Regions from separate parts of the Homo sapiens genome. Here regions 1 and 3 are each linked to region 2. The links come from fine-mapping of genetic effects on gene expression. A gene starts in region 2. Each other region holds a variant in brackets. All regions are shown on one strand. Distances are from middle to middle.

Region 1 (10,310 bases), 55 kb before region 2:
AATGGTTAAAATGCTAAATTATAGGTTATGTATATTTTACCACAAGTTTAAAAAGTGTTTTAAATGAACAAGTCTCAACTTGGACCCAGGTCTACGGACCGCAGGCTCAGTGTCTCTCCCACCATCATGCTAACAGGACAGGTTTGTATGGGAGATGCCTTTGGAGGAAACAAAACTGCTCAATTGAATTGCATCGAATTCTTTAATTCAAAGGTAAATCGGGGCAGTTCATCTCTTTTCCTCGTCCAATTGTTGGGTTTTGGAGAATTTGAGCAGTGGTGATTTTGCCATTTTTTCTCTTAAAAACAGGAAAATGTCATTTTACTAGATTTGTACTCAACAGGAAACTAGAATTATCAGAATTTTCTTGATAGCACAATGCAACAACACTTGTATAGAAGCCTCCAAACACTAAAGATTCAACAGTGCCTTCCAACTTTACAAATTCTCAGAGAGTCAATGATCCTTACCCCAGGAGTCACTGAGTCCTACTATGCACAGTGCTCTTCGTTAGGCACAGCAGGGGTGGCTGCAGGGATGATTGGGAAGACGCTGGCCTCCCTGAGCTTAATTGAGTGCCATGTTTCTTAATAAGAGTGTGCACTGGCCCCCCTGCGGTGCTGTCAAAACACACATTCCCAGGCAGTGGGGTTCACCTGCCTATGCAGGACCCAGATATGACACGGGGGATCTGAGGCACACCCCTGATTGAGAACCGCTGCCACGGGGGAAATGATCATCATTGAAAAATGGTAACAACAAAACCAAATAGAACGGATTAACTTTGAAAAAGTCAGGGATGACACACCTTGGCACTCTCAGAGAAACAGAATATTCTTTTTTTTTCTTTTTTTTTATACTTTAAGTTTTAGGGTACATGTGCACAACGTGCAGGTTTGTTACATATGTATACATGTGCCATGTTGGTGTGCTGCACCCATTAACTCGTCATTTACATTAGGTATATCTCCTAACGCTATCCCTCCCCCATCCCCCCACCCCACAACAGGCCCCGGTGTGTGATGTTCCCCTTCCTGTGTCCATGTGTTCTCATTGTTCAATCCCACCTGTGAGTGAGAACATGCGGTGTTTGGTTTTTTGTCCTTGCGATAGTTTGCTGAGAATGATGGAGAAACAGAATATTCTATTAAGCTGAGCACTTGTTCCCCATGACTTTGGAGAAGTGGGAGTGCGCGTTCATGGAAGGAGTTTGGAATGGATTGTTAAGGCAGGGGACTTGGCCACTTACTCTATTATCCTGAAAACTTTAAGCTGTCTGACCAGCTCCTGTGTGTAAGAGACTCAAGAGGAGTCACCTTTAAACTTTAAGATGTTGGAGCCAAAGAGCTGTCTTTATTATTGTTTTCTATGTCAAGTTTGAGGCTGTGTTTAGGGGACAGCCAGCTCTGTGACTGGGCAGAGGCAAGGCTATTAAGAGAAGGGACAGAAGTTGTTCGGACAGTCCCACAAAGGGCCTCCTGAACACAAACCAGGTCAGTCATTGTTACCAAAAACCGCTCACAGCCACTCTCCCGACATTTTCCTCTCCTTGTCAGGCAGTGCCCCTCAGACATGGAATTCTGGCTACAATCAGAGTTCTCAGAGATCCTCTGGCCTAATCTGCCCACTTTACAGACAACACAACTGAGATTGAGCTAGAACAAGTAGCTTGTCCAAGCTCACAAGTGATCAGCATCCCAGACAAACTGGCCCTGGCCTCTCGTCCCATGTAGAATGGGCAGAGGGTTGCTGGGGTGGGAGCCCCTTGGGCAGGGCAGTTGTTAGGCTGCTTTTTTTTTTTTTTTTTTTTTTTGAACATTTTCATTCTCTCAGCTGCCCATGCTGGGACTGTGATTTTTTGTATCCTGAGTTACACTGGAAGCTTCCTGAGAAGCGTGTCCACGGCCCCCTCACTTCACATGGCCTAGGGCGAGGACAAGTGTGTGGTTTCCAAGGTAACACATAGCTGGGTGGATTCAGCCTCCCGGGCCGCCTCCTCTTCCTGGGAGGCTTCATCTTAAGCCCGCAGGGGAGGAGGCGTGGGAGGCCAGGCGACGCACCGCCTTCCCATTCACAAACACGGACTCTTCCCGAAACCAGTCTCCCCTCTGTCCTCCTGCCAGGGTTCAAGGGCAGATGACCCCTCCCCACCCCGTCCTGAACTCCTGGAGCTAAGGAAGCTCCTGGAGGACTTGGCAAGAGGCGTTTGCCTGGAAGTCAACAGAACCCCAGCTGACGGGGAGGTCAAGCCTTAACATGCCCGGAGCAGGGCTTTTCACACCTGTTAATGGACACAGCACCACCCAGTGAGAGCATGATCCAGGATGACATTCCCCAGAGACAAAACAGAAAGTCAATACAGGCAGCCGAGAAACAAGCCTTGCTGCCACCACGAGCACACCCACCCCATCGGAGACGCCAGCCAGGGCCAGGGAGAGCAGCCGGGGGCCCTCACACCTGAGGGACAGGGAGCAGGGGCAGGAAAGCCCCCTCTGAGGCAGAAAGGGTTAAGCCCAAGTGTTTAAATGTTTAGCAAATAAAACCAAAATGTCACACAGAGACTGCCAGGGCTGGTGTAGTAACCATGGCAATCCATGGCCAGCGGCCGATCCAAGTGAAAAGGTGCTGGGATCGAGGTGGGCCTCCCAGAGAGTGGCAGGGAGGGCCATGGTGGGCATGGCCAGCTCACTGGGCAACCTGCTGGGACCCGCAGCCCCTTAGGATGCAGAAAGCACGGGCCAGATGCCAGGTCTGTGGGCTTCAGGTCAGGCTCTCAGCCTGTTAGAGGCTCTACTTTCTCCTTAGAATGAGGAGGGAGTAAATCTGCCATGCCTACCCCAGTTTTGTCATTCATTCATTCATTTATTCAGCCTACACTCATTGAATAGCACCTACTATGTGCTAGGCACTCTCATGCCTTTGGGGGTCCAACAGTGAAACCAATACAGTCCCCACTGCCATGGAGCCCACAGTCAGAGAAGGGAGTTGCAGGCAAGAAATAGTATTCACAACCAACATAAGACACGCAGGGACAAGTAAGAGCCGCTGCTATAAGAGCTGGTGCTAGGTCCACTCCTAGAAGGGGCACCCTGGGGTCAGGGAAGGGGGACGATGGCCAGAGAGAGTTCCTGGAGGAGGAAATATCTATGCTGAAACCTAAAAGGCAAAAAGGTGAAGGCGGCCAGGCCCAAGGCCTCATAGATGTGAAAACCCTCTAAAAAATACAAAGCGCTAGACAAGATGTGGCCACACCATCGTCTCTGAGGCGCTTGCTAATGTATCAGCTCTGAGCTTTCTGTCTTCAAAGTGTAGTCTGACGAGGATTTATTCCATGGTGTTCTGACTTCTCGGGCCCAGTTGGTGGTGTAGCTCCTCTCTCTATTTCTCCCTTTCTTTCTAGCCCCACTGTGCACAGCTGGGCCAGGCAGGAGGCCGAGGCCCAAAGAAGAGCAGCGCTCCAGTGAATCCCCATCACCAGTCGCTGTTCTCTGGAACACATTCCCCATTTTCAATTTCCCTTGTGTGCTGTGATCATCCAGGGGCACACTCATGAAAGTGGGACAGGAGAGGGATGTAAACCTGGCAGAGGAGGCCCCCATCTGGAATTTCCTTGTCAAGGTCTCCTCCCCTTCAGTACGAGTGGCCCGAGCTCCCTCCTTCCATCTGCTCATCACACCTGAGTTAAGGAGCTGACATGCTCAAACCTAGCCAGGCTGAGAAGTCTGTCTGGGGGTCTCAAGATCTCGGAGGTTCAATGAAGGTATTTCTAATTCATCAACCAACCAGCCAGAGACACCCTTAGGAAACCTCTACCAGGTGTCTGAAGAAGGATGGGGACTCTAGCCCCTACCTGGGGGGTTTGGGCAGCCTCCACCTCCCTTCGGAGGACAGGCACAGCTTCCTTCTCTTTTTTTTTCCTCTCCTGAAACGCTCTGGGCCAGCTTTGTCCTGAGCATACAAGGTCTCTGCTCCTGGCGAATGCAGGGCACAGCATCATCTCCGCGTGAAACCTGCCCAGCCTCTCTGGGAGAAATGCATCACTCCCTCCTCCGTGGCCACTTGGTGTTTCACAGACCCTCATATTATGGCACTTATGACCCTGGGTCACAGTGGATAAAGGTCTAGGACAAACCAATTTCCAAAGGCAGGAATCAGGTCTGCTTTATTTCTGGATTCTCAATGCCTAGCACAAAGTAGTCCTACAATAAATGTTTGTTGAATAAGTAAACGAATGAATGGACTCACCATTTTTATAGACTGTACTAGGGTTGGAAAATTTAGAGAGGTCAGTACGTGCTCTGCTATTATACCTTGTCTCTCAGTGCCAGGACACCTTACAGGTTACATTCAGGATGTGACTTGAGCCTGCTTTCTTTTACAGGGAGAAGGGAGGGTGAGGGCACAGAGCAAGACGCAACGTGAGTTGTCCTGTCTGTTCTTTCAGGGGAAGACACCACTAACTCATTTAGCGGTGGGACCCCAAAGCACCTGGGCCAGCAACACCTCCTGCATTACAGACACCCATGTCCCTGTGACAGCACATTACACGCACCCAGGAGGACACTCCCATCCACAGAGCAATTATGCCACAGGAAGTGAGGCTTCCTATAATTTATGTCCTGTAATTTCAAGTAATTTCCCTGTCTGCTCAGAACTCTATTGGTATTTAATGAAAATATCCACTTTTATATACCTAATAAATTAAAAGCCTCCCCTTTTTTTGGTCCCTTGTATTTCAAATTCATGAGGTTGAAGGCCCATAGTTTGTTACTACCGTTACGTTTCTGTTGAGTTTGAAAAAGACTGGAAACATCTGAGACCAACGCTAGATCTTGAGGGGATTGATATCCCCAGGCAAGAGTGGATCTCCACCCCATTGATCTGATTGATGCCTTTTACTTTGAATATGGCCAAGAACCACAATTTGAAATTAATGATCTCTGAAGCTCCCATTCTGGGACTGGATTATATGAACTCTGCCACTGCTCTGTATCCCATCCTGGGTCACAGTAGTCTCTTCAGTTTAATTCAATAAACATTCACTGACTACCTGCTACGTGCCCGGCATTGGCCTGGATGTAGGGACGGCACCTCCCATCCCTGCAACTTTATTAAGGATGCCAGGCTCTGCTCCACGCCTC[C/T]GGATGTGAATGTGTCTGCACCCCACCCCTTATTCCATGCCTGGGGCTCTGAGCCAGGCACTTCCTCCCAGGGGTACTGGATCCCTCCCATCCTCCCTTCCTCACTCCTGCCCCAGCTCTGGGCATCAACACCCCTCACCTGGCCCATGATGACGTGCTTCCCACTGTCCTCCTGCCTCTGAAATTGGCCTTTCCTATATTTGCATGCTGCAGATGAAGAGTGCTGTCTAAAATGTAAATCTGATCATCTCTGTCCCCAGCTTGAAACCTTCTCATAGTTTCTGCTGCTGCCTACAGGACATTCCAAAACCCTTCAGCAAGGCAAACAAGTCCCTACGGGTCCTTCCCACCCTCCATAGTGAACTTGCCCCTCTACCCAGGACCCTGTCCTTGAGACATTCCCAGTGTGCTCTGCAGTTCCCCATCTCAGAGCCTTTGTTTACTCTGAGACCTCTGTCTGGGGTATCCTTTCCACTCTGTCAGCCAGACAAACACATTCTTACTTAAGCTAAGGAGTTCTGCATATATTATCTAATTTAATCTGTACAATAACCCTTTCTGGTAGGTACTGGTTCCGGGTGGGTAGGCATATTCAAACCTACCCCCAAAGGCTGAGGAAGCTGAAAGGCTGAAGAAAGGGGCTGACATATCCAGTTTCTCAGAAAGAAGCATTTAATAGGGACTTATGAACAAAAGCCACAGTCTCTGGCAGCAGTAAGACAAGATGGTGGATCCTGCACCACGACCCCCTAGTCCCAGGGATTAAATACCAGAGGAAAGGGGTATATGTGCTTCAGAAGCAATTTGCCTAAGGGCAGGACTTACAGTAAACAGTAGATAAAGGAGAAATCTTAGAGGCTTTCCCGAAACTGGGTTAATCGGAAGTCAATATGGAGGATCAGCATCCAAGATGGAGTTGCTGTGGCCTCCACAGTATGGTTATTAGTCCTATTTTACAGAAAGGAAATAGACTAAGAAGGATTAAGTAACTTGCTAAAGGCCACCTACACACTAAATGTGACAAACAGCATGATTTGCGCCAAGCTGGGCTGCTCTGAAGTCTACATTCTCAGTAGAGAACGTTCCTCAAGCCTGGGTCATAACTGAGTTTTATGATTCTGCCTGCTAGCCTGCCTTCCAGGATGGCACCAGGGCCATTCATTAGAGCCATAGATTCACTCAAGGCTGATGACCCCTGGGAGAAGCAATGGTGAATTCTGAGTTTCTCATCTAGAGAACTGGGCTCCTGTCCTGGGCTCTGCACCTAGAAGAACATTATTAAATAGATGCTGAACCAATGACTGCACTTGGTGGGTCATCAAGGGCAAAGGAGGAGAGGATACTGGGGAGCAAGAGGAGTTCAGTGTTTTGTGTGTGGAGCCAGGGGCTGCCGGTGGCATGTAAAACGTGAGCCTGCAGCCTGGGGAGGGGATTAGCACGGTCTGAGAGCTGTTGGTGAGAGCTAAACCACAGAAGTAAATGGACTCTCCAAGGGAGAGCATGGTTTTCAGTCAGAGTTTTGGTAAATAAACAAAATGCATTGCTTCTTGTGTTTTCATTTCTCTCCCGGACACACTGGCCTGAGGAAAAGAGGTGCCTGAGTCTTTGAAAGGTCCGTGCTCCAAAACGCCAACAGAGAGGGAGACTGAGGAGAGATGGGGTGGGGTGCCATCTTCCAACAATGGAGGCTACCATGCGGGAAACCAACCCCTTCTTTTCCCTGCTCCAGAAGCAGAACCAGGCCAGGGGGCAAGTTCCAGGGAGGCTGCCTCTTCTCGGCAGAAGGGCGGGCTTTCTAAAGACATTGGTAGGGCAGCCTCTCCCAGGGGGGCCAGCAGCTCCGTCACAGTAGCACACACAGAGGCCCTGGGGTTCCTGCACTAGGTGGACACTACAGTTTAAACGTGTCCCCTCCAAAATTCAGATGTTGCCAATGTGGTAGTGCCAAGAGATGGGGCCTTTCAGAGATGTTGAGGCCATGAGGGCTCCTCCCTTGTGAATGGGATTGAGGCCTGTATCAAAGAGGCCCCATGCAGTGTTCAGTCCCTCAGCCTCCTGCCTTCCCTGCCTGAGGATGCAGCAACGTAGCGCCGTCTTGGAAGCAGAGAGCAGCCCTCACCAGACAACTGAAGCTGCTGGCACCCTAATCTTGGACTTCCCGATCTCCAGAACTGTGAGAAATACATTTATGTTCCTTATAAATTACCCAGCTTGGGTGAGAGTTACCCAACAGTGTTTTAGAATTCTTCTTCCTGAAAAACTCAAGCCATCTAAATGAACAAGTAAGAATACTGTTCTAAAAGGTACTCCCCCAGCCTCACATGTGTGCTGGGCAGGGCCTGGGTCCTGGGTGTGAGCTTCTGGGGCAAGGCTGGGGAAGACGGGGACATGATCATCTGGTCCCTGCTAAAATTTAGCTAGGTGATCAGGAACCACTGTGGATGAGGAAAGCTGTGAGCAGATTCCTAGCAAAGGTCCTGACATCACCCAAAGGGGAGATGCGGCAGCCACCCCCTGCCCTGCCTGCTTCGCAACAGGTGAGCAGCAGCTGGCCTTTGCCTGTGGAAGGGTGCTTGCTAAGCACTCCCCTCTGCATAACTTCATCAGTCACACTTGGGATAACTCCTTCCTCCACTCGCAGGAAGCAGGTTCCGCAGCTGGCTGAGCAGCCAGATCTAAATCAGAGAATTACAAGATTGGGGGGCTAAGTAATAGATGAGGAAACTGAGGCCCGAGACCAAAAAGCTAAGTCAAGGTACGACCAGCTTTGGAAAAGAGTTACCTTGAACTCAGCATGCTTTCCATTCAAAGAACGTGCTACAAACGTGCTATACTCTGCCGAGAAGAGTATACTGTCAGACACTATAAGTCTCTGGACATGCAAAGATTAATGCAAAGATAACTGTCCCTGAGGTAGGGAAGAAAGACACCCAACAGAAAACTACAATATGGCCCAGTGCGGTATATACAAGGGCGCTCCGTAGGAACCTCCCTCCCACTGACTCTCTGGGCCCAAACTGTTCCCATTTCCCTCTGGCAAGAGAAGGTCTAGCTGGGCACAGAAAGAACTTTACTGGAAAGGTAAGAGGCACAGAGGAAGCCGGTTTTGGTGACTTTCCTCAAGTGACGGAGGCTGCAGGGAGGATAAGGGGCTGGGTGGTGGGAGCTCAGGGTACAGGCAGGGCTGGGCCAGAGCAGGAGGAAGCCCAGCCACCTGCCAGTACCAGGCAGTCGTGATAGTGACCACCTGGTGGACCCAGCTGGTAAGTGCAAGGCCCAGCTAGAAGCAGTGGGACAAAGGTCACAGGAAAGGGACCAAAGTTTCCATTCTGTGAAAGCCCACTCTGTACTCTACACTGTTTCCAACCCCTGCAAGAGTTCAGCAAAGTGGGTGATGTGGTTCCCATACTTCAGATGGGGAAACTGAGCCCCAGAGTCAGGATTCAACACAACTGATTTCACTTTGTTTCTCCAAATTGTGTCAGGCCAAAATGAATGACCCCCAATAGCATCATCTACTGCCCATGATTAGGGCTGAAACAGAGATTGGCCATGAGCTGGACATGGGACAATGGGTACCCAGCCAGGTTCTGGGCTGTCAGCAACATGACCCTGCCACCAGGCCGGAACTGAGTCAAGCTGCAGCTGGACCAGAACAGGCTGAGAGCTAGGGCTGCAGGCCCTGGACTGGGAACAAGGACCTCAGGAGCATCAGAGGGAGGGACACCTGGCTCTACCCACCCCAATGCCTGGAGCAGAAAGAGGAAGTAATCAGGCCTAGCACCACCAAAGTGTGGGGTTGAGGCTGAGAACAGCTCCTCTTCTTCCCCTTCCTCAAGCCTGGGTCATAACTGAGTTTTATGGTTCTGCCTTTTTTCTTTGTTGTGTGTGACACCTCCCCACACAGGTCAGGGTGACACATAGTAATACAGTCTCCCTACAGATGAGAACATGAACACTGAGGGACTGCCTGGATCCCGCGGCTGGCTTTGGGTGGGGTGGAACCAGGCCCGGAGCCCAGACTGTCAACTTCTGTCCTGTCTCGATTCCGTGGCCCTAGTCCTCCCTGCCTGTACTCCTGGCTCCTTTCTGGGGCTGACTGGACAATGGTCTGAGTTAAAGTCCACCACTCTGTCCAATTCAGACTCCATGAAGGAAGCTGCCTGGTGGCATCTGGCACAGGCACAGCCCCTGTCCAAGCATCTGCAACCCTTTAGAGGCTGAAGAGTCCCAGCATCCAGGTCAGTATCCTCTAGTCATTGACAGAATGCAGCCCTGCCAAGGTGGCCTGGAGCCAAGGCTTCCATGTCCCAGCCAGCCACAGTGGCCCCTGACCTTCAGACAAAAAGCCAAGGCTCTCTAAGAGGAGGAGGCACTCCCACCTGCGTCCGCACTGCTGCTCCACCCTGAAAATGCCGAGTAACAAATGGGACTGGATTTGAACGGTGTTGTTAAATAGCGCTTCACAAAGCACTCTCCCATGCGCTCCTCATCCCATCCTCACAACAGCTCAGCAGAGCTGGAATAAAGGCCCCATGTTCTAGATGAGAAGATCGAGACCCAGGAAGGTCACAGGGCTGGCCAAAGACACACCAAGAAAAAAGGTCATGGCCGAGACTTGACCCCAGTTTTTCTGACTCTGAGCTCTGGTCTTCGTCAATCTCTCGCCTGCTGCCCAGATGTGAATCTATCTGTGCTCCTCCAGCCAAAGGACCGGGATGGTTTCCAGATTCACATGCACATGAGGAAAAACATCTGGATAGTTTAGAACTTCTCAGGTCCACAGCAGTGCAGGTCAGCCTGAAGGGCCGGGGGCTGGGGGAAGCTCATTGTCACCAGAAGATGCTTCAGATCTGTTCTCTCCTGTCTGACCCTCCTGGCCCGGGTTGAACCATCCTCCCTATGTCAGCCAAACTGGAAGTGCACCCTGGAGGCCCAGCCAATGTTTCTCTGGGTACCAAGTCACTCCTGGGCAGCAAGAAACAGAGGCCTTCTCGGCCACAGCAGACTCTTACTCTGTCTAGAAAATGACACCCCCAGCCTAGACCCACAAGGGTGAAGACCACACCATTCACAAAAAGCAGACTCCTTGGTGGAGTTTGGTGCAGCATATGTGGGGGTACACAAGGCAGGTCTGCCTCACTGAAGGGATGAACTGAGTGGCCCAAG
Region 2 (10,297 bases):
GGTCTGTGATTCAGAAATGCGGGGAGCCAAGCACCTCAGGTGGCCTCCCCTTTCATTCACCTAAAATCTGCCTTCCGCATCTCTGGGAAAGCCCCTTTCCCTGAGCTCCCCCTCAGGGGTGGCACCTGCCCCAGGCAGGGAAGAGGGCCTGATCCTGCAGAGTGGTGACTCTCCCGTCGCGTTAAGACAAATGTGCATAGATCCCACACTGGGATCTGTGCACAGCCACTGTCTCTGGGAATAGCCGTTTCCTTAAGAACTCTGACTACGGGTGTCACTGAAAGAGAAGGTGCTGGGATTGCCCCTTCCCCACACCCCCCTTGCATTTGGGCCTTCATCAGTTTTCCCCAGTGAGGGCCCCTGGTCTCCAAGGGAGGACTGGAGAGAGCCAGGGCTGTGACCAGGGCAGCTGCCAGTCCTAGCGAGGCTGCCAGCCCCATATCCTGGAGCGCCCAGCAGGAGAGGCGGTTCTGAGAAGGCAGCGAGCAGAAGGACCCGCAGACGCAGAGGCTCATTACAGGGAATGACTAAGTGAGCTGCGCTTCCAAGGGAAACCCCACTCGCTTCTGCTCGCTGAGACGCTCATCCTTGAGCTATTTTGACTAAGGCGGCTTCCAGGTGCTGCCCTCCGCTGGGGCAGCCCACTGAGAGAGCAGCCGGGTTGCTGGAGGACCCTCTGCCTGGAAGTCTTGGTCCTGGCTATTCAGGTCGTCTGACAGGTCTGCCCCACCCGTTTCCAGGGCGGGAAAGTCTGCCCATCACCGATTAAAGTGAGATGCTGGGAATGGGGGAAATCCGATCAGCACCTCCTAGGTTTTTGCGGCTGGATTTCAATAAGGAATGTGACAGTCTCGCAGCAGCTGTGCCCTGCCTGAAACAAGCTCTATTTGAAACCTCCAACAGCTGAACCCCTCCCAGCTACCCGATGGCCAGCCCGCCCAGCCACCCCCCCACCAAGCCACCCCCTGCCCCAAATGACAAATAAATAGAAAAACCCAAGCAACAAGCAGGCGCATGCATACGTACAAACATTACGCACATACACACACACACACCAACAAATTGGGGGTGGGGGTATCGTGGAGCCACTTGTCCACCGATTCCCAGGTCTCCAAGCCTTCCAGCCCACAGCAGGAGAGCTCCCCGGCAAGCAGAGCATCGGCAGAAACCCACCTTCCTCCATCTCCACTCCCTCTGGGAGGGAAACCCCCTCCTCCGTCTTGGGGCTGGACTGAGAGGCTGGAGCAGTGGGGCCAGCTCCCCGCTAAAGCCAGTGCCTGCTGTTCTCCATCCGGGCGCGCACTCACACACACACTCATCTTTATTTATCCCAAGGAGGAGTTGAGGTGGGAGGGGAGAACTGGGGCTGAGCTGGGGCGCGGGCTTGTGGGGACCGCCTGGGAAGCCCTGTCATCCCGTCCCAAGGAGAGGTGCTCCCCCAGCTGATTCCAAGGCGGCGCCCAGCTGCTCTGCCCAGGTAACACCTGTAGCCATTTTTATCAGGAGATGTTTACGAAGCAGCAGCAGGTTTATTCTGAGTCCTCTCTCCTGAGGGAAAGGACCACTGATTTCCTCCACCTATATTTTTACCCCATGCCCTCAGGAGACCCAGGTCATGGATGGTTTTCTATTTTGCCCGAGACTCTCTGAGAAGAGGAGGGAAACAGAAACTTGGGAAGAGATGGAGAAGACAGGGAGAGAAGGGACTTGGGCAATGGTACGGAATCCCCACCCCCCACCCAGACATTTATTTCTTTTTTATCCTCAGGAAAATGGAGTGGAGCAGGGAGGGGAGGAAAGAAGGGGAAGTCGCAGGAACTGGCAAACACATGAAGGCGGAGTGTAATTAATTGGTGCGTTAAGCTGCTGGGTTATGCTTTAGTACGAGTGAGCCAGGAGGAAAAGCGATTTCTCAGAAGGGATTATTGAATCCTCCCTAACAGAGAGTCTGCAAATTAGACACAGTGTGTGGGGATGTCCCCTACCCCCCAGAGGAAGCTAGGAATGAATTCTCCCGGGATCAAGAAGGAAAACCACGGGAAGTTAGAGTGTTGAATATAACTGAGCAAGCGCCTCTCACCACCACCACCACCTCTCTCTCCCAGTCTCCCTCCCAATCTCTCAATCTCTCTCTCTCTCTCTCTCTCTCTCTCTCTCTCTCAATCTCTCTCTCTCACAATCCCCCTCTCTCAATCCCTCTCTTGCTACCTACATATTCCTTTTGTTCAAGGTATAAAGAGAAACCACAGCCCCTACCTTTGAGTACAAACCCCAAGAGAGCTCGGTCTCTATCACCATAACAACAATTCCAAACATCCCAAAAATCAGAGCATAGTCACTCAGTCGCTTTCTCTTTTCAAACAGGGCCCTCCTGTGTCCCAGCTTATAGCCAATGTTTTGGTTTTTCCGCTTGTTGGCTTTGGGGAAGGTGGTGCTGCTGGCGGTGGTGCCGGCATGCTGGTGGTTGTGGGTGGCATTAGGGTGATGGAGCAGGGTCTGGTGGGCATGGTTGTCCTCCCGGGAGGAGATGACGATCTCCGGGGGGTTGCTAGGGCTGAAAAGCTGGAGGGGTTGGCCCTCAGTCTCGGCCTCGATGAGGTTCCTCCGGGAGGCGCTGAGGCGGCTGAGGGGCTTCATGACCCCACCGCTATACTTGCAGGAGCTCATGGCGATCTCCGTGAAGGGGTTGCTGTCCCGCCGGTGCACCAGGGGGCTGGCCTGTCGGTGCCGGCTGCCTCCGCCAGGCCCACTTGTAGCTGTGGAACTTGGAGAGTGGCCAAGCAAGTGGTCATTGAGATTGAGCTGGCTGCCTTGCCTGGAGGAAGGGTGGAGGATGGCGGTGGAGTTGGACGAAGGGGGGGCCCTGAAAGCGGTGGGAGAGGAGTGCAGCAGGCCAGGGTGGACGGGCTGGCTCTGGAGTTGGGCGAGCTGAGACAGGGGATGCGGTGGCTGCTGCTGCTGCTGCTGCTGCTGCTGCTGCTGCTGCTGCTGAAGCTGCGGAGGCTGAGGCTGCAGCGAGGGTCCCAGGGGCTGCTGGGGGGCTGCTGGTGGCGCTGGCGGTGGTGGCTGCTGCTGCTGTTGCTGCTGCTGCTGCTGCTGCTGCTCATCCCCAGAGGATGGACAGGGGCACTTGGGGTCTTCATCCAAGTCCCCCACCCCCGAGTCATGGAAGTGCCCAGAAGTGTCCATCTTGGGGCCTGGCTGTATTCCCTGCAGCACAAGCCCCCACCCCAAAGCCACCCTCGCTCCAAAGATGTCCTCAAAGAAAGCCAGGCATCCAATCTCCCCCACCAGTATCTTGGCTCCAGTCCTCTCTTTGGCTTGCTTCGGTTCTCTGGGGCTGCCTGGAGTCCAGACGCTGCCACTCAAGAATGCATTGTATTGGGCAGGGAGGGAGAGCAGGAGGGGAGCTTGGAGAAAGAAGAGGGGGTGAAAGAACTCTCTCAGGAGGTGGTCCTCTAGGAGCGTGTGAGGCCAGGCTCAGCTTCACTCCTCGCTGGCTCAATAGCTTCGCTCGCCTCCTCCTGCCACTGTTACATTGTAAGCCAAGCCCACTTATTAGCAGCTGGTCTCATTGGCTTGGCTTAACTCTCCAACCTCCTCCTAGCTCCGCCCCCCGCATAGGCTCCTCCCCAGAGGAGGGGCCTGGCGTCCTGGGCTCCGGCCCCAGTGGCGGCGCAGCGAGGACTGGGAACTGTAGTTTTTGCTCCCCCACCCCGGAGCTGAGCCGCTGTCCTCTTTCCTCTGACAGGTATGGCCACAACCCTTAAGCCCACGGCGATAAGGGATGTTCGCTCACGCTGGGCGATGGGGAGGAGGGACAGAGGGCCTCCGAAGGAGGGGAGGTGTGCACCCTGATGAGGGGGCAGACGGAGGGGAAGGCAAACATTTATTAACCACCAGGGTTTACGATAGGTTGTTTCACATATATTATCCGGATACAGTCTCCAAACACCCAAGGAGGTGGGCAGTATGGTCTCATTTACAAAGCCTGATGCTTAGAGGTGTTGAGTAACAACGTCAAGGTCACAGAAGCAGGGGGGATCCACACCTTCTAACACCCGGTGGATAAACTCACCTACCATTGACTGAGTGCCTACGCCTCGTGTTCAGGGTCCTCTCTGTTATTTCCAACCCTCACATCAACCCCACAAAAATGATGTCATCACTCTCCTTTTACAGATGAAAATTGGAAGAAGAAGAAGAAGAAGGAGAAGGAGAAGAAGGAGAGAAAGGAAAGTGGAAAAAACACTCAAACGCTCAAACATAGATATGTAACTTGTCAGATGTCATCCCGCTTGTAATTAAAGATGCTGGGATTTGAACTTAGTCAGTCTGACCCCACAGATCAGATACTTTCTCCCAGGATGCATTTCCACTATGATATTCAGTACAAAGTGGTTGTTCAATAAATATTGTTCAAATGTTAGTTGGGGAAAACAAAAGAGAAGCTGCTGAGGAAGAACTGGCCTCTCCAAAGCAGGGTGTGTGAAGTGGACCATGGCTCCAGCCCCTTCCCTAACAGCTGGGTGTGTAGTCACAGGGGGATCTGGCAGGAAGACTGAAGATTCCCCCATGGTCATTCCCTGCCTGATTTGCCCCATGGGGCTCTGAGAGTCAGAACTAGGAACAGCTGCTGGCTTCCCAGGTTCAGAACCATCATCATCAAGTATTTATTAAGCCCCCACTGTGTGCAGAGGGGGTTCCAAAGGATGGGACCAGAGCTGAATTCATTTTCATTTCTAACCACAGCAGCCTTAGGAATCAGAAAGGAAGTCACCATGAGGGAATTCCCCAGAACACCTGGGGTTTTAAAAGGCAGGCCTCTTCCTCTCTGGCTCTTGATTCCCCATCACCCTTTGGCCTCTGTCCAGCTCCCTCCCTCGATGGGAAGAGGAAAGGGTAGGAGATCCATGCACACATACACAGACACACATCCAGAAAACATGTAAGCAGGTGGACATATGTGCACATGTGTACATGGTTGTGTGCACACACTAGCCCATGCATGCACACATGCACACATATACACATAGGAAGCTCCTAAAACAGCATTCCTGACTGGTAAGCAGCAAGTGTCCAGATCAGGGAGGGACAGAGCCCCCCCAAAATGAGCCCAGAGTCCCCTCTGTATATCAGTTCTCACCTCTCCAATCCCCCATTAACCCTGATGATTGAGAGCTAAATATTACTTGTAATACAAGCCACGACCCCAGATACGTGACAATTACTCTTGCACAATAATCTTGATTCTGGCCAGGCATGGTGGCTCATGCCTATAATCCCAGCACTTTGGGAGCCCAAGGCAGGAGGGTTGATTGAAGTCAGGAGTTCGAGACCAGCCTGGACAACATAGCAAGACCCAGACTCTACAAAATTTTTTAAATTAGCTGGACATGGTGGCGAGTGCCTGTAGTCCAGCTACCCAGGAGGCTGAGGGAGGAGGACTGCTTGAGCCCAAGAGTTTGAGGCTGCAGTGAGCTGTGATAGCGCCACTGCACTTCAACCTGGGCGACAGAGTGTTACCCTGTCTCTAAATATATATATATATAAAATAATAATCTTGATATCAATGACATAATCATTTCCCCTACCCCTGCCAACACACACACACACACACACACACACACACACACACACACACACACACACACTAGAAGTCACAGTACCAGGCCTCAGATGCAAGCCTGGGGTCTCATGTGTTTTCCCATGACCAAGCCCTCTAGAACCCACCCCCAACCCCTTCAGCATCCTCTGCCTTCCCTGCCCTTCCCTTCTGTATTCTTGATTTCCCTCCCTCTCCTCCATCCGCAGACAGAGCCACCTGCTTGGTTCAAGGCTCCAGATCGCATACTTAGGTTTAATGATCCTCTAATAAATTATCATGAATATGTTGTTAGTAGCAAAAATGTGCTGTTCGTGTTGGTTTTTTAGTGTTGGATACAGTTTTCTGGGCTGTGAAAAATCAATTTTGGAGAACAGGCTCCAGGCCTGGGTATTCCTATGCTCACTCTACCCCCATGAGCTGCCTTCTGCCTCAGCTAACCTTTCTGGCCAGCCTCTTGCCTCCAGTTCTTCTGGCTGTGCCAATGGGATCCAAATGGGGCCTATCAGAGCACGTCCTGCCATCATGGATAAGGATGAAAGATAGCTTGGGTAGAGCCCTAACTATGCCAGCACCAAAGATCAGTGGTTATCTGGAAATGGGCTGGAACTTGACAGCTGATGCCACGGAGCCAGCTCATGCCCCTTGTTACAGCTATCCTGTCATGAACAGGAGGAGGAGGACAATGTCATGTTTAGAGCTTGGGCTCAAGTGTCAGACTGCCCAGGCTGGAACCGTTCTCTGCTGCAGGGATGGCTGTGTGACCACAGGCAAGATGACCTTCTGATCATCCATACACATCTCTTCCTAACTCCACAGTGATGTCACATTAGCAGCTTGAAATCAGCCATGATCAGAGTATTTACACCACAGAAATCGGCTAACACTGTAAATTAGAGCTTATGTTTTCCTGGAAGCCGCTTGCTAAATCTTTCCTGGCTGTTCAACATTTATCAGCATATTACTGCCTCCTATATCATTACATACAGGCTGTGCGCTCCACCCTCTGCCTTCCTTCTCACCAGCACAAGCTTTGCCACTCGCCCACTTTGTGACCAGTTGCTTATGTTCTCAGGCCTTCAATTTCCTTAGTCCAATGAGAGCACCGGCCAAGTACTTTGTAACTGTCAAGCACCGACAGGTTAGTGAATCAGCTGGGAGCTCTCAACCACAGGGCCTGATCATGTCAGGTTTTCCACGTTGCCCTCCAGATGCACCGCACTCAGGCGTCTTCCCGCTGTTGCTGCCTGTCCAAAGCCCCACTGTTGAAAAGCCCCCAATGCTTCCCTTGGCCCCCAGCCACAACCATGTCTTCACAGCAGCCTGTGAGTTGAGGCCATCACCCATTTTATAGATGAAAAAACTGAGGCATTAAAAAGATTTTAAAACTTGCCCAGAGTTACTAATTAGTAACTAGCCATAAAGCTGGAATCAAACCCAGGCCTGTCCAACCTTTTGACAAACCCTCGCCATATGTCCTGAAACCCAAATTTAAAGGATTCATTCTTACTGGTGTTTATTAAACATTACCATGTGACTCACACACCCAACCCTCAGGAACTTAAAGTCTCACTGTAGAGACAAGTTATACTTACATGGGGTGACAAAAAACAGCAATGCAGATCCCAAAGTGTGGGCGAGACAGTAGAGTTCATTGAAGGCAGAGGGTTGTCAAGGGTGGCTTCCTGGAGGTGGTGGGACTTAAGCCACACCTTAAGGAATGGGGAGCAACTCCTTATGCTGCCCTAAGATGACAGGCTGACAAATTAGGCCTCTTTAGTCTGCAAACGGGGGTGTGGAGGAGCTTCTTACCTCAGAGAGACAGGAAGAGCAGACAAGGAAAGTAGGGGTGGCCTTTGGCCATACTGGCTCCACATCAAGTGTACTGGCACTCGGTTTCTGCCCTCCTTTCCAGGCTCATTCCTCACCACCTTCCTCCTTAAGCCCCAGCATCACCGACCTATTGTAGCTCTCCCGTAAGTCATGCTATTTCACATCTCCATGCCCTCTGCCTGGCATGCCCTTCCCCCAGATTTCCATCTAACACATTTCTCTTTGCCTTTCAAGACATGGCTCAAAGGTCTTCTTTCTGAGAAGCTTCCCCTGAACTCCCCAAACCCAAATCAGGAGCTCCTTCTGTATTTTCAGTGCCCTGTGCTAACAGGGCCTCTACGGAGCAACACAGCTGTTATCTCCATATGTGTCCTTTGCCCATAGACCATGACCTCCTTGAGGGCAGGGATGATGTCTTCTTCACAGCTGTACTGCAGCTCTTCCGAAGAGCCGCTTACAATAGATGCTTAGTAAAGATTAATCGAACTGACTAAACTTGAAACCTGGATGAGGTCATTTGAAGGCAAGTAAGGGAAAGTCACAGTACTTTTCACAACAAATCATAAACACAATTTCCTCATCCGTAAAATAGTGAGATAAAAAAGATGATTTCTAAGATCACTCAGCTTTAAAATTCCATAATCTATTGTCTGTAGACCTTGTTATCCCCAAAAGGTAGAACTAACTGAAAATAGGTTTAAGAAAAGTAGTGGTTCATGGTTTATATGGCTGTCTTTCCCACAGGCTGTGACCTGCATAAAAGGGCTCTAAATTTTTTCAGTATCCCCAACACTGATCACGGTGCCTGGCTATGAATTACTCATTAAAGATTTATTGGTCGGACCTGGTGGCTCACGCCTGTAATCCCAGCACTTTGGGAGGCCGATCACAAGGTCAAGAGTTCAAGACCAGCCTGGCCAACATGGTGAAACCCCGTCTCTACTAAAAAAAAACATACAAAAATTAGCTGGGCGTGGTGGCGAGCGCCTGTAATCCCAGCTACTCAGGAGGCTGAGGCAGGAGAATTGCTTGAACCCAGGAGGCGGAGGTTGCAATGAGCCAAGACCATACCACTGCACTCCAGCCTAGGCAACAGAGCAAGACTCCATCACAAAAAAAAAAAAAGATTTATTAGACAGATGGATAGTAGGATGGATGGACAGATGGACGTGTGGATGGGTGGATAGGTGGGTGGATGGATGGATGGATGAACGGACGGATGAATGGGAGGATAGATGGGTGGATGTATGGATGTATGGATGATGGATGGATGGATGGAGGGAGTTTAGACACAAATGACAGATAATGGCAGGTTTTCTAGAAAAGCCAGTGGTGTTGGAGGGATACCCTTAACCTGGTAAGGATAGGGTCATAAAGATTAACCACCCCCTTTCTCAGACTCTGAATGGTTGGACAGCTTTAGGCTGAACAGCTCATTAGCCCATGTGGGTTCAGTCATTACTGTGTTCTTATCTAGGAGCTTCATTACTGGATTAATTAATGCTCCAATAATAAAAACAAATCCTGTGTTTGCAGAGCACTTTATAGTTTTCCAACTGCTTTTATGTAAAATATTTCATTTGCAACTCTTGGCAGCCCTGGAAGGCTGGCTGGGGAGGTTCTATTGCCTCATCGTTGCCACTCTTACTCCCATGAACTAGAGTTTAGAAAGGTTTCAGTAGTTTGCTCAAGGTCACCAGTTAGGCATGGATTTGAACCTGGGTCTGTCTGTGCTCTTTCCCATCCATTCTGCCTGGAAAGCCCTTCCAGCCCACCTCTTGCTCTGTGTCCTGTCCTGTGAGAATTTAGGGAGCAGCACAAGTGCCACCCCTGCCCAGAGCTTTCCCTGACCTCCCCTCCTCTCCTCCCTCAATTTGACATTATCTCCCTCTTCCGAATTCCCTTGGCACTTTATTGTATCTCTCTGGGGACACTGTTCACCTCTTGCTTTGTACTGGTGTTGTCTATAGATATATGTCTTCTCTCCCCTGATTTTATCATATATATATACAGAGAGAGAGAGAGAGAATCTGTTGCCCAGGCTGGAGTGCAGTGACGCGATCTCAGTCTTGGCTCACTGCAACCTCCGCCTCCCAGGTTCAAGCGATTCTCATGCCTCAGCCTCCCGGGCAGCTGGGATTGCAGGCGCCCGCCACCACGCCTGGCTAATTTCCCTGATTTTAATTGACACCATAAGCTCCTTGGTGACAGGAGCTTATGGTATAAATTGGAAAACACACACACACACAAAACACTGCACTTCACGCTGCACCCAAATTGTGTGTTGAATACATAAGCAGGTAAGAGGGTGAGTGAGTTTAGCCTGACTGAGAGTTTGGGCACTTTGACCCAGGACACATTACTTGCCCCTTACTTGCCCGGCTGGCCACCAGGAATGCCAACTGGTAAGTGTAGGCCTTCTGTCCACACTTCTTTCCTGAGAGTCCCTGGATGTCTAGACCCTGGGTGAAGCCTCTTATAATGAATGCCCACCTAACCCCTGCCCCTGCAAGCCATGATCTGAGGAGCAAGGTAGGACTACAGCATGTCACCTGTCCCCTGGCCACGCACCAACAACTCTCAGCCACCTATGGGTGCCAAGGAGTCTTCAGCTTCACACAGGCTCCTCCCCATACTCTGCTTTGCTAAAGAAAAACTGGAGCTCTTTTGCATCATCTGAGTGTCAAGGTAAAGGGGACATACGGCCTGACTCCCTACACTTGGAGCATTTACTGAGGGCCAACTGTGGGCATTCATGGTTCCAACACGCCAGGGAGTAAAGTTAGTATGCCCATTCTATAGATGAAGAAACTGAGTCAAATTTCAGAGAAGGTTAACTGGCCTGCTCTTGTTCACAGT
Region 3 (10,310 bases), 33 kb before region 2:
CTGGAAGAGGCCTTCTAAGCCATCAAGTCTGACTCCCCGATTCTATAGGCAAGCAAATTAAGGCCCAGAGAGGGACTCTGGCCTACCCAAGGCCACACACCAGTAACAGAAAGGGCTGATAATGCCCTAAGCCTTCCAAGGGTGGGGCTGGTGTTCTGCCACATCCTCACTCTGCCCATCCACCAGCTTGAACACTGTCTGAAAGGGACAGGCCCCTGTCTTAGTCCTCTCTCCACCCCTCTGCAGCTACTCAATTCAGGTTTGGGGAGTGAACATTTCCTCCATGCCTCATTCAAGGACAAATCAGGAGAAACAATAATTACCTACTCCAGGTTCTCTATCTTCTTTTGGCTTAACAATACAAAAGCTTAAACATAAATAAAGGGAAATGGTCTGGAAAAATAAAAACCAGTTGGCATGGAACTATTGGCATCTCAGTGCGGCATAAGAAGTAGAAATGCTGTTTTTCAGAAACAGCACAGCCGTGAGTTTCCTAACATTTGGCACAGGTTTTTCAATTGTTTGGATGTGATGGACGATGTTGATAGAAGTGGTGGAGACCAAACACAGGCTATTAATAGACCAAACATGGCACTTGTATAATTCTTTCTCTCTCTCACTAGCTCTCTGGCACCAGACTGCTGCCAACCTGCCTACCTTTTACTTTGAGGTGCCATGAATTCCAGCAATGGGGCACGACACGAGCCCCACTGCCTGCCCATGTCCAAGCATGTTCATCTGAGAGCCTGGAGGAAGGCTGGAAGCCACACACCAACGTGGGCCACCAGCCTGTACAGGGCTTCAAGGAAACTGCAAGATGCAAAGACTCCTTGGGTGCTGGTCCTGCCTATCACGGGGCATGCAGTAGAGTCTCCCAAGTAGACTATCCATGGTCTAGGGGGGGTCAGGGAACCTCCCAATTCCTCCATGTGGTTATTTCCTCCATTTCTTTCTCCAAGAACATGAGGCAGCCCCATCTCAAGGCGGGAGCTCATTCCACACTAATTGATTCAAGTTAGAGCCATTTCAAGGCAGAAGGATCTCCATGGTTCCCCTACAGGTGTTGCCTCTAGGAACTCTCCACAGATTCAAACTCTACAAGGACTTACTGAGTACCTGTTATATGACAGGCTCTGAGTCTACCCATCCATCTTCATATAAACTCTCACTTAATCCTCACAGGAAGGAACTGTCCCCACTTGACAAATGAGAAACTGAGGCACGGAATGATTATACAATTTGCCAAGATCACACAGCTGAACTGTGGGAGCCAGACTTGAAACACACAGCTTCTGATTCCAAGCCCAGGATTGGTAAGGACCGCAGCACAGTCCCGGCTGAGACCTACACCCTGAGCTCTTCACGGAGGAGGTCGCTTGTTCCTGCTCCACTGAAGCCAGATTTGCTACTTCTTTCCCCCTGAGCTGCACTTGTTTCCACATCCCCAGAACTCCCGGTCCTGACCAGCTGTCCTCTACCTGCATGGGGTCAGCCACCGAGGAAGCCAGGCCAAAGACTAGAGCTGGACCGTTTGACACCATCACCATCTTTAACATCTATTCAATGAGACTAAAAAATCCTTTCTTCCTTCCAGGGTTGTTGTGAGGAAGAGCAGATAATGAACGTGAAAATACTCTCCCAGTCGAGGGTTCCCACGGGCTTAAAACAGCCTATGCAGAGGGTGGCGATACATTCGGGTTTACCCAGGAGAGTCCAGTGTATGCCTGTTATCTGGCATAATTATTACTATGAATGGTAATCATTAATATAATAATCTCAAAAGTGTCCCAGTTTAGACAATGAATCATATGATCACCCTATATATGTAGTATTTGCTGCCAAAGGGTCTGAGAGAATTGGGGCCCCCTTCCCGCCCTCTGCCCCCACACCTGCCAGCTTCCACACCCACTATGTGCACTCCATTAGCAGACACTTTGCCAGGCTCATGGGCAGACATCATTCTGCTGGATCAAAGCAATTGTTAGTAGACAGTATTTTTAGCAAGGTGGTGTCACAGTGCCTGGATTAATTGCAATTAATTATATGTCACTCCTTTAAGGTTTATTTCATCAATTATGGACAATCACGGCCATGTGCCTTGCTTGCTTTAACCCTTGGTGACTTGAATTTCTTGGCACAGAGGAGGCTGTAACCATGGAAAAGGCTGAATATCAGAATATATTTGCTACTGAGTCACTGTGTCCTGGATGTCAGTTTAGGGCTTTCCTGTTTACAAAGCATTTTCTTGCACAGTTTCCTATTTGATGCTGGGAGGTAGAGAGGACCACTCCTAACCCACAGATGGAAAAACTAAGGCTGGGAGGATTTAAGCAATTACCCAAAGCCATACAGTTAGGAAACCCCACTCTTCTAACACAGGGTTGCCAAAACATTTCCAAGTCTTCTGTATAGACTGATGAGTGTGACCCTCTGGCATCAGTGGTCAGATAGCCCCATGGCCAGGCATGGGGACAGGATCTGAGGGCGTCTGGAGGCAGACTTGCCAGGGAGGAGCCAAAGGCACCTGACGCATGTCTGCCAGGCAGAGCAGCCCTTACCTTGAGCATTTCAAGTGGCCCTAATGTCAAGAAACTCCAAGAAGAATGTGTCCGTGCCAGAAAAATATGCAAACAAGGACACCCAGCACCTTCCTTCTTTGAGTGTTGAGCAGCCGGAAGAGCAGCCAGAAGGTACCTCGTACAAGTGAGGAGATGGTAGGACTCCCACAGTACCCCTGGGTCCCTCTTGCTGTTGTAATAGGAGGAGCCAGAGGAACACCCCACCTGATACTCGACTGGCCTTAATTTGGGCTCCTGCCCCCCGTCTATTTTGCCCTGCACCGGTTACAGAATATTAGTTCTAAACAGATCTCTGAGCTCCCCTAGTCCAAAGCCTCGTTTTACAGATGGAGAGACTGAGACCCCAAGCAGGGAATGCCCCATCTCCGACCCCACTTGCCAGGGCAGAGCTGAGCAGGGACGTGGGCCTCCCCTCCTGTGGGTTCTTGCTGACTGTGGCTGGGAGTCTCAGCTGGGAACTGGGGTGCTGTCTGGAGCGTTTCTCTCACGGGAAAGTTTGCTGCGTCTTTTCTTCCATCCCTCTTTCTTACCTCCACCCTTGTCTCACTCTCCTCACCCACATTTCATCCCTCTCGCACTATTCCTGTTTTCCGGGACCAGGCTTTAAGATTGTCAGCTAAAGGGGCTAGGTCTGAAGGAAACTCGGCTGGAGCCCGAGAGCCGCCGCCCCTGGGCTCCCTCTGAGTGGCCCCTCCAGGCTCAGGGCTGCTTCATGGCACAGTCGGGGTCCTTTCTGTCTCTCTGCTCCATCACCTCACAGAGGACTTGGCACACAGTAGGCACTCAATAAATACTTGATGAATGAATGAAGGGATGCTACCCTATGGCCTGTTCCCAAGAAGAGGAGAATCGTGCAAAATCACTTCCCTGCAGGCCCCATCATCTAGGTGGGGAACAACACTTCCAATTGTGGGGAGAACTCCATCAACTTTTGTTTCCTCGTTCCACTGACTAAACAGATACTTATTTGCTTAGAACCCATTGTTTAAGCCTTTTTTTTTTTTTGAGACAGAGTCTTGCTCTGTTGCTGGGCTGGAGTGCAGTGGCACAATCTCAGCTCACTGCAATCTCTGCCTCCCAGATTCAAGCAATTCCCCTGCCTCAGCCTCCTGAATAGCTGGGATTACAGGCGCACGCCACCACCATGCCCGGCTAGTTTTTTGTTTGTTTGTTTGTTTTTCATTTTTTGTGTTTTTCTTTTTTTTGCATTTTAGTAGAAACAGAGTTTGACCATGTTGGCCAGGATGGTCTCGATCTCCTGAGCTCGTAATCCACCCGCCTCGGCCTCCCAATGTGCTGGGATTACAGGCATGAGCCACCGCGCCCAGCCTATCTACATGTAACAGCTGTGATCAAAGACCTAGGAAAACAGCCAACCCAGCCAACTCCTCCTCCTGGTTCCTCACCCTGGAGGAGCTCTGGGCCCGAGAGCACAGAAGCTAGGAAGGCAGCAGAACGAGTGATGCTTATGGGGGAAAACCTGGCTTTCCACCCACAGCTGTTTCAAGGCGTCCTGCAGAAGTGGGTCTGGGGGTCCCTGGGCAGGAAGAGCCAGTCTGGGGCTCCCAGGCATCCACTGCCGGTGATGACACACTGAGCTATCAAAGCTTGGGTCAGAGCAAAGGAAAAAGCTCACACCAGCCAAATGCACAGACATCTCACAGATGTCACGGGCTACCAGGTGGCAACCCCGAAGCAGCTGCCTCTTGTCACGTGGGGGCCAGGTGGGTGGGGATTTTGGCCCAAGGGGGTGAACTGTCTCACTGAAGAGACACAGCTGGGCCCAGCCAGGGCTGTGTGCCGTGGGGAGCCAGGTGTGCTGAGGTCAGCGGGGAGGAAGGCGCTCTCGCAGGGCTGGAAGAGGAGAAGCCAGGCAGGCCTGAATTACGAGGGCAGGAGTGCACATGCTTCCTGGAGGACTCACCCCTCTCCCTCCAGCTGCCACCAGCTGCTGACCACGGTGGGACAGCCAGCTGACAGGGGTCAGGCGGCCAGAGGTGGATGGACAAGTACAGAACAGAGAGTGTGGGGGCCAAACAGGAAGGCGGCCACGGGTGTGGAGAACGTCAGGGCTAAGACAGACCTTAGAGTCTTTGCATCTTACAGGTCAGGACCCTGAGGCCTCGACTTGGCCAAAGTCACCCAGCTGCTAGATCCAGATCTAGAATTTAGAGCTAGAGCCTAGCTCCTTCCCCTACTCCCGGGCTCCTTCTGCTATACCATGTAGATTCCATAGCAAGTAATTTAAGACACAAATCGTGCCATCCCACTCCTTAAATCCCTTCTGCGGCTCCCCACAGCCTCTGGGATGAAGGCAGACCCCCTAAGCAAGGCATGATCTGACCCCTGCCTGCCTCTACAGCCCCATATCTCATACTCACACCATAAATTCTAGCCATACCGAGTTGCTCACACTCCTTCAAAATGCACTAAGCTTTCGTTTCCCTCAACCTTTCCATGTGCTTGCTGGGCCGGGAACAACCTCCCTGCCTTAGCCTTTCCCGTTCCCAGTCAACCTTCAGGACCGGCTCCGTTCTCGCCACTCCCACCACCCTACCCTCCAGAGCTGCCTCCGCCTCTGCGCTTCCTCCACCCTGTCCCTTCAGGCCTCTTCGGGAGACAATTCTAAGTGCGTTGAGCATCTGCTTACCAGGCTGTGAGCTCTTTGAGTGTGGGAACCAAGTCTTTGTCATCTTTCTGTTTCTCCCCCACCCCCAGCACCTTGCACAGTGCCTGGAATGTGAGAAAAACTCCATTAATGTTTGTGGAATTAATTATCAAATTAAGGAGTGAATGAAGCCTGGGCAGCTTTGACAGTACCTTGTTTCTCCCGAAGCTACTTTACCTACAGAAGGGCCAGTGCCACTCAGGACATCTCTAACCGCTGATCTGCCTTCTGCTCTCCCTCCCTCCCCATGTTGGAGGGCAGTCGGGTCACTCCATGGGAAAAACAGCAACTGAGATACAGGGGACCCAAGTAACACCCCCAGTTGTGGTGCTGACACAGGTCGCTGTGTAGCGATGGCAAAGCAGCTGAGATGGTGACTGAGTTCACTTATCCATGAAATGAGTGCATAACCACGTGCCCACCACCATCGAGTGACCTGCGATCTGCAGACCTCAGGAAGCAGGGCGCAGTTGTGCTCCCTCCACCCCCATCACTGCTCCAAGGCTCTGCGTACCTACACCAGAAGGGGAACAGATCCCATAGCCCAAAGGAGCACTGAGCCTCCAGGAGACCCTTTGGAGGCTCTGGTAATGTGATTTTAGAGACCATCTGTCTTCCAAATTCTGTTTTCCCTGTACAAAATACAAACAAGATACGACACCTGATTTACATCCCCTAAGCACCACCAGCTGATAGGGAGGAAAGGTCCCCATGCAGTGAGACAGCAGCAGGGACGAACGTGACCTGGGTTTGGAAAAGACACTACAGGCAATCCACAAAGTGGATAATCCACACCTGGCTGACGAAGGTTTGGCCCAGGCACAGAGAGTGCTCCACAGTGAGTGAGGGTTGCTGGACTCAGACCCCCGCTCAGCTCTCACTCGACAAGGCTGAGGACCTCGCCTGGGGCAGACTCGGCCACAGAGCATCTGAGCCTTTCTAAAGCAGTCCTCAGCCACCCCCAAGAGCCCTTCTGGGGGCCCTGGCCACTGGCCACTGGTGGAAGTGTTTTGAATGATGGAG[C/T]GCAGAGACAAACACAGACGGGACAAGGTGCCAGGAGCCACATACCAGAGCTGCTTCTCAGAGCTGCAAATGGCTCTCAGATGACACCCCAGCTGCTAGCTCCTTGCCAGGGGCAGGGTGGGCAGAGAGGCCTGCAGAGCAGGGGCTAGGTCACAGAGCTGGGGGGAGGGGCACAGGGAGTCAGGGATTTCTAAGACTCAGACTGGGAACCTAGCAGGAAAGGCACTGGAAATTGTACTTACTCCATTTGGTTTGTCTATTTGTCTCTTGCAATTTATCTAGTATTTCCTAAAAGGTCACTGGGTGGTGATTTCAATAATGTAAAATTTGTAGAGATGCTCTAAAAGAAATGTACAAATTTCACAGGTTTACACTGGCTTAAAAGCAATATATTTTATTAAAAGTGTCTATTCTAAGTGCACTTTGGATAGGATTTGGAGACTGATTGGTTAGAGATTCAAAAGGCCTTGTGCTATTAAAAGATCCACTGTGTTTTTGGGGTGGTAAAAAGAAATAGAAATCAAAGCATTTGCAAAGGTATGGTTGGTGGATGGAGAAAAAGCGGCGTGTGAGATCACAAAATCCTTTGTCACCTCACAGTCCCCGAAGCAGGGAGCTGGGAAAGAAAGATGCTTATTACAAGCAGAGGGCCAGGTTTCCTGCGAAGGCTTCCGTGTCCCAAAATCTCACAAGCCGCTTCTCACTTTCCTCTCACCGCTCCTCATTAACTGAAGCCAATCCTTGTCATTCAAAGGAAAATAAACAGGGAGCAACTGCCTGCAGAGACAAAGAGTCCTCATATCGGGACAAAACGGCTTCTCCAAGCAGACACCTTTTCCCTCAGCCCCAGTCAGAATTCTCTATTTCTTTCCAAACAGCAGAGCCATTTCCTTCCTGTCAGCCCAGTGATGCACAACTTCCTGTCAGGACAGCTGAGGAATCTGGAGAAATGTGTCTTCCCTCACAGCCTCTGCTCAGGTTTGCAGGGCCTCAGACAGTACCAGGGAGCAGAGTGGAGAGCTCCAAAGAAGCAGCCCCTCCCACGCCTCTGCCCCCACCAACGCCCTCCCCGGATCCCCCAGGTCAGGCCACCGAATCCAGACTGAGTGTGTGCACCGCACCCTGCCATCTTAGGCTTCTGTCTCCCAGAAGCCTTTGTGGGAACCAGCATTTCCATTCCCAAAGCCACCAGGTGGAGACCAGGGGCAGGCCTGCCCCTGCGGGGTCAGGCCCCGACCTAATCAGGACCCTGGGGCCTGTCAGAAAGACTGAGGCCTGCCCTAGGGCTGCAGAGATGGTGAGGGCGCAAGGGAGGGTCTTTTCCGGGTAAAGATGGGCCGCTGACAGCCCCCTTAGGTCAGCACTCTGGCAAACCCACTGTGGTATAAAAATAAAAACCTCAGTCCCACAGACTCCACATTAAATGGAGTGAGAGGCAGGGAGATGAACACTGAAATAATCACCTCCATTTAGTAAGCGCTCTCCACGTGTCTGCATTCTTCCTTTAATCCCCAACAAACCCTGGGACAGTGGTTCCCAAACTTTGCGGCACATTAGTATCACCCAGGGAGCTTTTTAAAATCCCCACACCCAGGTTGCACCTCAGGGCAGTGACATCAGGTCAGAAGCTGGGAGCCAGGCATCAGCATTTTTTTAAAGATCCCCAGGGGATTCCAAAATGAAGCCAAGTTAGGGGACCACTGAGCAAGGCACTGTTCGTACCTGTTTTATTAATAAGGAGATTGAAACTCAGAGAGGTTAAGTCGCTTGCCTAAAGCCACACAGCTTCTAAGCAATAGAATTAGGCTTCTGGTTCATGCCTGTTATTCCATCACAGAGCCCCCCTCACTCCAAACTTTCTGCAGAAAGTTGTTCAGCTCTATCTACCAGGTATTGTCTCCCTACTACATCCCCATCCCCGAATGAGAGCACCTGCAGACATCTTTGCTTGCTAGCAGGAGTAAGGATGAGATGTGCGAGCCGAAGGGGCTGTGCAGGGCTGGGGAGAGCGGGCTGAGTGTGTGCAGATGGCCTATTGGGAGGTCATGGGATCGGCAGGTTCTGCTCCTTCCTCATCTGACAATGCCATTTAAGTTCTCTCCAGAGCAAAGCCTTGGCCTGGCCTAAGAGGATGGCCAGGTGTGAAGGAAACGCACGCGAGAGTGTAGCCACGTGGGTGAGCGAGGGCACGACAGAGGTGGTGAGGATGGCACACAGCCTGGAGAGGGCGAGCCCAGGGTAAGGGGTGAGGGGAGACCCCCGGGAGTGCTCCAAACCAGAACCTTGGGGGATTGACCCACTTCTTGCTGCCTGTGTGACTTGCAGCAAATCACTTCCAGTCACTGGGCCTCAGATCCCCTCTTTGCCCTGCAATGGGGTGGGACCCTATGGTCCAGAGGGTTCTCCCACCCTGGCCTCCACAGTGATCATGGCGGCCCCCTTCTTGGGTGTGAGCAGGTGCGGGTGTGGGAGCAGCTGTGGCCTCATCCCAGGCAGGGTCCACACACAGTTCAGGCACCCACAGAGCCCTGGCTCTCAGAGCTGTCTGGCCAAGACAGGGAGGCCAGTGCACCTATTGAACATACAGGCCGAGGAGAGGGGCCCTGGGGCAGCACCCCACACTTGACCTTCCTGAGTGTCCCAGCCATGACCTCCTGAGCTTCACATCACCTGGTCGCACCCCAAAAGTGGGGCAGAAGGGGGCTATAAGCAACTGGGATTTAAAGCCCCTACCCCTCACCCCAGCCCACTGACCTGCAGCCTCCACTGGCTGCTTCCCTAAGTGCCAGACAGAATCTGGTTTCCCTCCTGTGGCTCATTCAGGGACCCCCCCCCCGCCACCACCTCCTCTGTGAGCTTTCCCCGGCCCTCCCTGACATAATTAAATGCTCAGTGCTACTTCTGTGCCTGGTTCCAACCTCTCCCCTTGCATATATTACACTACACTGTGCTCACCATCTGTTTACACTGCTGTTACCATCAGGGCCTCAAGGGAAGAGTCCGGTTTGACTCAACAGAGGCAGCAAAGCATCACGGTCTGCAGAAGGGGCTTTGGAGTCCGAAGACCTCACTTAGAGCCCCACTTTGCCACTTCCTCGCCATGTGACCAAGCCTCAACTTACTCATCTATAAAATGGGGCAGTAAGAGTAGTGACCTCATAAAGTTGTCATACACATTACATGAGATGACACGTGTAAATAAGTGGCTTAGCGAAGGACCTGACACTTATAATAGGAGCTCAATAAATGACAGCTATGAGTGCCTTCATATCTCTGACACCTAGGGCCTAGCACAAGCCCAGCCCATAGACATAGATGCTGAAGAAGTATGTTGAAATAAGCTGAACCCCAGCCTGTTTGTAGCCTTGACGGTCTGCTTGGCCTCTCCAGGAGCTAGATATGGTCCCTGCCCCTCCCACCTCCCAACCAGGGCTGGCTCCCTGCATCCATCCACCCTGCAGAACAGTTCCCCTCCCCAGAACAAGAAGCTGCCCCATCCAGGTTCTAGACAAAAAAGCCAGCTGCCTGGCTCTCCACAGCTGGTTCCCAGCGTCCCTTCAGCTTGAGAGCCCACATCCCCGGGCTTCCAGGCAGCACCCACTGAGCTCAAGCCTCAAGTATCCTCAGTCCCAGCCTCAGCCCTCATCAAATATTTTTTTTAATAGAGATGGGGTCTGGCTATGTTGTCCTGGCCTCAAGCAAGTCTCCCACCTCGGCCTCCCAAAGTGCAGGGATTACAAGTGTGAGCCACTGCGCCCGGCCCCTCATCAAATCTGAAGTCCCAAGGTTAGCGAGTATGCAGGGAGGCTGGGAGAGAAAAGCAAGAGGCCCCTTACAGCAGAGGCTGAAACCTTTTAAAGCAACAGTGAGAAACGCTGAGAGAGAAACCAGGCGGGGTAGGTGGGGAGTTCTCTCCCGGAGACTCCTTCTCACCCTTGCTTCCCACAGAACCCAAGAAAAAGGCACTTGGCAATAGTTACAATTCCAGACGGCACTTAACGAAGTCCAATGCCTCAGCAAGACAGACGTTTGGAGAAATA

Direction of the effects. Positions count from the first base shown, and alleles are read on the strand shown. Sizes are in standard deviations (SD) of each study's normalised expression. Not every link is listed here.
With allele T in place of C in region 1, the expression in sun-exposed skin of the gene that starts at base 3,506 in region 2 is lower (small effect, 0.19 SD a copy in GTEx).

The links. PIP is the estimated chance that this variant, and not a neighbour inherited with it, causes the effect.
Region 1: its variant is fine-mapped to the expression of KCNN3 in sun-exposed skin (GTEx, PIP 0.91).
Region 3: its variant is fine-mapped to the expression of KCNN3 in lung (TOPMed, PIP 0.96).

The regions. Positions count from the first base shown.
Region 1 is chr1:154,811,419-154,821,728 of GRCh38, forward strand. All of the region lies in intron 2 of KCNN3 (potassium calcium-activated channel subfamily N member 3), which reads right to left. Among named protein-coding and RNA genes, the nearest start is that of KCNN3, 54 kb to the right of the region's middle. RefSeq lists enhancers at 1,497-2,156, 2,157-2,814. The variant C/T (reference allele first, on the strand shown) is at 5,142.
Region 2 is chr1:154,866,776-154,877,072 of GRCh38, forward strand. KCNN3 (potassium calcium-activated channel subfamily N member 3) reads right to left here and starts at 3,506. Exons shown (of 8, transcript NM_002249.6): 1 at 2,257-3,506. The coding sequence starts at 3,189. RefSeq lists enhancers at 1,330-1,849, 3,257-4,213, 3,286-3,375.
Region 3 is chr1:154,833,534-154,843,843 of GRCh38, forward strand. The region is part of intron 1 of KCNN3 (potassium calcium-activated channel subfamily N member 3); the gene reads right to left. Among named protein-coding and RNA genes, the nearest start is that of KCNN3, 32 kb to the right of the region's middle. RefSeq lists enhancers at 6,844-7,345, 7,000-7,294. The variant C/T (reference allele first, on the strand shown) is at 6,271.